Linked DNA regions of Homo sapiens. The protein of the gene in region 2 purifies or fractionates together with the protein of the main gene of each other region. This does not show direct contact. Each region holds a gene or a part of one and is shown on either strand. Other genes may lie near its edges. The genes, in order: MPPED1 and TAF5L.

The links.
Region 1: the proteins of TAF5L (region 2) and MPPED1 purify together in Homo sapiens (co-immunoprecipitation; one large-scale study listed by IntAct). This does not show direct contact.

Annotation. Positions count from the first base shown.
Region 1 is NC_000022.11:43,470,821-43,474,635, reverse strand, and holds part of MPPED1 (metallophosphoesterase domain-containing protein 1 precursor), read right to left. Parts: intron 1-3,815. UniProt on the Homo sapiens protein: May have metallophosphoesterase activity (in vitro).
Region 2 is NC_000001.11:229,605,513-229,609,327, reverse strand, and holds part of TAF5L (TAF5-like RNA polymerase II p300/CBP-associated factor-associated factor 65 kDa subunit 5L), read left to right. Parts: intron 1-1,492; exon of another isoform or gene 1,493-1,520; coding exon of another isoform or gene 1,521-1,554; intron 1,555-2,451; exon of another isoform or gene 2,452-2,910; intron 2,911-3,134; exon of another isoform or gene 3,135-3,209; intron 3,210-3,815. UniProt on the Homo sapiens protein: Functions as a component of the PCAF complex. The PCAF complex is capable of efficiently acetylating histones in a nucleosomal context. The PCAF complex could be considered as the human version of the yeast SAGA complex.

The DNA.
Region 1 (3,815 bases), on a different chromosome or scaffold from region 2:
AACTCCTGGTCAAAGGTCAGCTCGTGGTTGCCCGCGATCACGATCTTGTACTCATAGGGCAGGCTGCCTGCAGGGGTGGACACAGACAGACACACAGCACACAGCTGTCAGCTTGTCCAGAAGCCACAGCATGGCTGAGAGAGGGGCGGGCAGGAGGAAGCTGCTGGAATCGCTGACAGGGGTACCTGCTGCCAGGCCCCCAACAGGTGTCTTCATCAGATCAAAGGAGGCAGCAGCCTGATCACTGTCCCCACAGTCCTGCCTGTCCAGGCCTCCACTGGCCATCGGCCCCCTGAGATCATCGGGAAGAGGCTGGACAGGTTCCTCCCAGGCTGCTGAGCTGCAGAGTGCCTGGCCTCATCCTGGGACTTCTCTGCCTCAGTTTCTTCTGTCTGGACTAGTTTTCTACTGGAAGAAGACCCCCACGCTGCATCCCCAGCCCTAGCTGTCACTGGCCTCACGGTCCCAGGCCCCCACCCCCTGGGTATCTTGGACTCTTTATCCTCCACTTTCCAAAAGGAATTGCAAGGTCTTTGCAGAGCCCAGTTCAAATGTTTGGAGACCCCACACTCAGGAAACATTATAGTACCCACCCCTACTGCCATGGAAATTCAAAGCCAAAACAAAATCTAGATGGAATCAAAACAAAAATGTCTATGTATACAGCCACTGAATTACAATAGTGTCATTCCAGCTTTGCTGTGTGCGAACTTTTGGGTAGTTCTTCCAAGGTACACATCTTTCTCTCTCTGGGGTCCAGTTTTCTGGATGCCCTAGGCAGGAGTGTGCACTGTCACCCAAGAGAGACTGGCTGGGGGCTGGTTTCTCGGCAGCTGCCCGGCAGGCCTCACCCACCAGGCTGGCTCTATGCAGGCGCAAGACCACCACAGCTGTTCGGTCTCAGTAAACGCCACTCGCCCCTGCCCCCTACTCCATCTGAGAGCCAGCCTGACCCCAGGCTTGGGCCCCTGACTCCCCACTCCCCACCAGCCTCAGCTGCTGGGCACTCATGGGCCTGGAGAGTCAAGATGGTACCTGTAAGCCCTGATTTGGATAAAAAATGAAATGTTGAAAGTGCACTTGGAGACCCAAGCCTTTCTCCTGGCCCCTCCTGGGCCGAGAGTGACCTGGAGGGTCAGGCAAGTAGCAAAGACGCCAGCACAGCACAGGGGCCTCGGGGTGGATGGGGACCCAGACAGGAAAATGGTGACATTCCATAACCAGTTCACAAAGCAGTAACTGTGGCTAACAAAGACCGACACCTCGCGAGGCATCCCCTCTATCCCTGGAAGACCATGACCTTCATCTGCTAAAGCACACACAGGGCAAGGTGCCAGAACACTTGTCTGGCCATCAGGCTCCAATGAGCCCCTGACACCCCCTTCACTCCTCACCCTCCCGGGGCAATGCCCAGCAGCACGGGCACCGTGGTCTGTCCCCTGGGACAACACAGCAGCCCAGGAACAGCAGAGCCTTTTCCACCATGACCAAAAACTCTACCTCTTCCGCTGTGTGAGCATTCCATGGGGAACCAAATTCCAGAAATGCCTCTGCTCCAAATACTAAGGATTGTTTTTCTTATTGGAAACGGATGCTTGCAATATGGGCTGAGACTCGGAAGATGTGCCATCACACTCAGCTCTCAGGAAGCACTCTAGGAAGAGCTCGCCTCCCCAGCCCTTACGTGAGCTCCAGGGAAGGGTAGAGTGAGGTTTACAGCAGTACATGTCCTATAACTACAGCCATTATTATATCCTAATAGCAAGGAAATAGAAGGGTCCAGTGCCCCGTTATAAGCTTCTTCTCTACCCCCAGCTAGATGAGACCTGTGCCGTCTGTCTAACCACGTGCCCTATGGCCACGGCAAATGGCCAGGTCCCAGCCTGGCCAGGGAGGGTGGGCCAGGGCGGTAAGAAAGGGAACCCCAAGGCGAGACAGAAGTTTTCTTCAGAACAGGCAGAAAATCCCAATCTACTCATAGCTGACTCACCAACCACCTCAGACTGCTTCACAGGTTTGAGAAAGAAAGCACTGCTCTTTCTTCTTCGGGATTTATCAACTCTGGGGCGGGGGACCACTGGTACATGGGGGCCACTGGTACTTAGCAGGCCACAGAATCTCAGCTCCAGCAGCCTGGATCCCAGACCCACTCTGCCACCAACCCGCTGTACGACTTAGCTTCCCTGTGCCTCAGTTTCCTTACCTGTAAAATGAGAAAAGTAACAGCGACCTTGCAGGACTGTTCTGATATTATAGAAGATAATCAATGGAAATGTACAAAATTTTGATGTTCAAAAAAACCAAAGAGCTTCCCTGGGCCAGAGTTTGCAAACTAGAAGCAGGCAGGCCAGACCCATCCACAGACATATTTTGTTTGGCACAACTTTTTTTTAAAACTTGAATTTGTTGCCAACATCAAAAATTTGAGAGATTCCTAATAACATTTCATTACTTCTGTTTTCTAAAAATAAAGAAATAAATACAATTTAACTGGTCCAGTCAGGAAGTGCTGAGTGTCTGTGTCCCCTTGGACAGGATGAATGCGTCCAGCTGGCCCCAATCCCCACCTGTCCCTACCGTCTCACACCCAGTCCACTTCATTCATTTGAAGGTACCGCCCACTCTTAACAGGCATTTGGGTTTCTGTCCCTGGGGACATGAAGGGAACAGCCTGGCCCTGGCCCGAGGTTCTTCCAGTCAGGCTGCTGGGATGAGATTCTACAAGCCCCTTCCACCTCCCTGACCCTCCTCTTGTACATCAGAGCCCACCCTGATGGACGCTGGGAACTCTGCTTGCTGTGCTCATGGGAGAGCTCCAAGAACATGGATGCAGGCGTGTTTGCTTCCCCCAGCTCTGTCCCTAGCAGGCCCCAGCAGGAGTCTGGCGAATGAAGCCTCCCACAGCCCCACAGTGCGACCAGGCATGGTACAGAGAAGCCCTCTCCAGTGAGGCTCAGGCTGCGGAGAGGAGGGAAGAGGGCTGCGTGGGCCTGAGCAGCTGGTAGTGGGTCCGGGAGGACACAGCAGGAAAGATGGCCACTTCTGGACCGCTGGTGGAGAGCTGAGATCTCATTTCCCTAGAGCACCCCCAAGGTACTTGGTTTTATTATCTCCTCTTTGCAGCTGAGCAGAATGAGGCTCAAAGGCTGGGAAACCCACCCAGGCCCCACGGCTGTGGAGGGGGACGCTGGTCCAGCTGACCCCACCCCTCTAGACGGGCACCTCAGACTCCTCCAAGGCCAGCAGACCCCTCATCGAGCCCCTCCCCAAACACACTGCAGCAGGGAGGCAGCCAGAGCCCCCAGCTCGGGTTGGGGGTGGCCACCATCGCTGCCTTCGGGCTCTGATTCACCACATTTCCACTTCACATCACCCATCCATCCTGCAGCCCAAGCTGGGGGTGCAGAGCCAGTGCTCATGTATTTATGTCATGTCTTTGACTGGGGGTGTTACTGAAGCAAATTAGCAAATTACTCCAACTGTACAGTTTCATTTATTTCTGCAGCTCCCGACTACTGGGGATTGGGCGGAGCGCAGAAGCTGTCAGCTCTCCCCTCTTCTTCTCACCTCAGCAGCTGATGACTGAGGCTTTTTCCCTCCCAGAAAAGGGTGGATGGGGCACAAGGCCCAGCTCCCATACATAATGCAAGGGAGCAGGGCAGGAGCCACCACCTGCTGGGGTGACACCCTCAAACACTGTCTGCTCCATGGCTTGGAGGCAAAGGGACATCCACTTATGAACACAGAAACTGTCCAGCACCACATCCCTCTGAGTCCAAAGTCACAAGAATGCCTGTGGGTGTCCACCTGGACTT
Region 2 (3,815 bases):
TGATTAAAAAAATACAAAAATGTATGTAATGTCATTAGGGTCATCTGAGTGTCACTCATAATAGAAATAAGTCATGACCATGACAAGAGCCATCTCACTGTCATGAGTCAGAATATACCACTATTAAAATTATACATTTGGTGATTTACTTTTGTGTCTGTTTTCCTCATTAGACTATATGCTCCATGAGGGCGGGGACCATATCAATATATCTTAGGACAATATCTATCCTGGCATGTAGTCAGCACTTAACATAAATACAGGCTGAACGAATGAAGGAGACAGGCTCAAAGAAGCCAGATAATTTGCTTCTTTTTCTTTTTTTTGAGACGGTATTGTTCTGTTGCCCAGGCAGGAGTGCAGTGGCATGATCACGGCTCACTGCAGCCTTGACCTTCTGAGATCAAGTGATCCTCCCATCTCGGCCTCCTGAGTAGCTGGGACCACAAGCATGTGCCACAACACCTGGCTAATTTTTTTAAATTTTTTTGTAGAGACAGGGTCTCACTGTGTTGCCCAGGCTGGTTTCAAACTCCAGGCCTCAAGCAGTCCTCCCATCTTGGCCTCCCAAAGTGCTGAGATTGTAGGCACAAGCCACCACACCCAGCCAAGACATTTGTTTCTAAACCAGCTTCCCCACCACTAGTATGGTGAAAATAAATCTGTCATGGAGAGATTAATATCATATTTTTTTAACTGAGTAAAATAACTTTCTAAAAACTGAGTTAAATTTTTCTGCAAGTTGCTTAAAGCCTCAGAAACCAATGCCAATGATAAAAAATATCTCTAAGTTCTTACCTCTCAATGAAAGAAACCCTTATTATAAATTCGGTTTTTCTTTTTTTATCCTTAGTGGAAATTGATCACTGCACTGAAATATTTAAGATTTATATGATATGCAGAATTAATGGAACTTCCTTTTTTTCAAACATAATAGAGTCATTTTACTAAAGCCTTAATTTTCATGATTTTTCGTTTTTGTAACTATTAAACAGACTATTCTCTACTTATGAATTCTGTCACCCAACAACCATGAAACTGATAAGATAACCCCACTAGAGGGTTTTATTTTGTAACCCTTATTTCCTGTAATATTTTGACCATTTTCTCCAACTGTAGACTATAGTAAATATAGATTCTTTGCTTTAAAATACCATTATGGGGGCCAGGTAAAACTAGGATAATTCTATGCGTGTGTAAGGCCAGGTGTATTATTTTGGTTTATATATTGATTACTGTATACTCGTCGTTTACCATTAAAAATTATTACCACAAGGATTGTTTGGCCAGAACTTTACATTTCAAAAGATTATAGTCTATCAACCATTTCCTTTAAGTTCTTACTTTATTTCTGAACTGAGAAAGTTGTCTGTTATTTTGTCTGTAATTTGATTCTTTAATCCTTTGGTTTAAAGGATCATTATTTTAAAGGGGTTAATATATATTGATCACTTTGGACTGCTGCTCCTGGAATATTTTTCTCTACCCTCAGGTCTCTGAAGAGCAGTTAACCAAATCAAATGAATAGTTATTTCCTGATCACCAAGATAAAGTGTAAGATATACTCATTAATCTATTTTAGAAGCAGTCCTAGCATAAAAACACTATAGGTAAAAGTTTTTACATAAAATTTGAATATCACAGAAGCACTTTCACAGACCAGCATGAGATCAATTGCTGAATCATATAGGAATTGCATTCAGAATGAAAGGAGAAAGTGATTTGGTTGGCGGTAGTCAGAGAAGGCTTTACTGAGCAGGAGGTAGGCTTTAAGTCAGCACTTGAAGGATGGATTGAGTTTCAGTAGACTGGAAGAGGAGGAGGAAGAGGAGTAATTTGGGTAAGAAATAACATGAGCAAAAAGGCAGGCTTGACGACTGTACAGGAACAACTAAGGCTTTGTTGTGAATGGGGGTTTCAGGCTGGAGATCAATGAATATTAGTCTGAAAGCAGTTTGTAAAATTATTTGTAAGAGGAATGGCAGGGAGACTGACTGTGAATTAAAGTGCTTGGCAATCTTGAGAAATGAGGTGAGAAAGGACCAGAATTTGACAGCATTGTGGAACTGGAAGGCAGGAGCTTTATTTCATAGTTAAATTACCAAGGTGGAATCTCCAAGGCTCAGGAGTAAAGGAGGAAGAAGAGGTGACGATGGCTCAGGCTTTAAGACTGGAGTGGAGATGAAGATTTATTGAAAATAAATAAGTCAGAAGGGTTTATGTTTGTTAAATTGTCATGACAGTGGCATCCTACTGCATAGCTTGCAGTGGGAAATTTGAGGCTAGGATTTAGGAGAAAGATAAAGACTTGTAATAAAGAACATGTAGCATCAGCTACATGGAGATGCAAATTAAAGTCTTAAGAAGTGATAAAATCTCAAAGGAAGATACTAGGGAAAGATATAAGAGTATCTATGTCTATATCCACCTGAATGTATTTTTCCTCCACAGGTTGTCTGTAGATGAGAGATTCTGTGAGCTCACCTATTGCCGTAGGTCCTATTCTTCAGGAGGTGTAGTGGGAAGAACACAGCCTTTGGAGTCAAGCAACCTCTGGATTTGAACCAGGGCCAGCTGTGACTCTTAAACATGATCATGGATGCAAAGTACCTGGCTCCTAAGAGGCACACACCCAGTGTTAATTCTTTAAAGTGAAATGAGCATTTGAGGATTGACAGGAGGAAGAGGAACCAAAAAGGGAGTGACGACAGGACCAAGTAGTGTGGGCTTTCAGAATAAAGGACAGAGGAGTGCTAGTCAATAGAGCCAAACCTTGAAGAAAGGTAGAGGAGAATGAGGACCGACAGGATTAGTTTTGTTTAATTTAGTATCCTTTTTACTACTAATTTCCATGAACTCATGAAAAACTCCATTGTTCTCTCATTTACCGCCAGTAGAGTTGGGCACCAGGTAGGCATTCATTACATTTCAGTGGGTAGATAGAAGGAAGAAAAAGTGTACTTTCAGAGGATATGTTTGTTACTTTTGCAGTTAGAAAAAAATATATTTTAAGTGAGTACACTTTCAGTAAAATACAGAGTATGTTAGATTGCAAGGGAATAATTTAAAATGGGAGTTAGAATTCTGAATCTCACCTTCTTCCAAATTGATCAGTTTTTTTGTTTTATACCCAGCATACTGTTCTCTTCAGACAAGAGAGAGCAATTAAGCAATTTTGAACCTATGAGCTGAAGCAACAGTGAATTTCAGTAAGTTTTAAAGTAGTACATCACTATTTCTTGATAGCTAGGTTTTTTTCTAAACTTACTCAATTGAAATGCCTCTCATTTTAGAAAAGGAGCCTGAAATTTTGTTTCTAAGGAATTGAAAACAATCCTTCATCCCAATAAAAAACAAAGGGAAAAGAAAAACCAAAATCTAGTCACAGTTCTCGAAAGAAACAGCCAAGAGCCAACAGGATGGATATGTAGAGGTTTACTTTAAGGAATTGTTCCATGCAATTGTGGAGGCTTGGCACATTCAAAATCAGGGCGGGCCAGCAGGCTGGAGACCCAGGAAAGAGTTAGTGTTGCAGTTCAAATCCAAAGGCTCTCTGCTGGCAGAATTCCTTCTACTAGGGGAAGATAAGTCTTTTTCTATTAAAGCCTAAACTGATTGATTGATTGATTGGATGAGGCCCACACTTTATGGAAGGTAATCTGCTTTACTCAAAGTCTACTGACTTAAATGTGTTAATCTCATCTAAAAAAAAAAATACCTTCACAGAAACATTTAAAATAATGTTTGACTGAATATCTGTGTGCCGTGGGCCCCCCCACAGTTTGACATGTAAAAGTAACCTCACAAGTCCACTC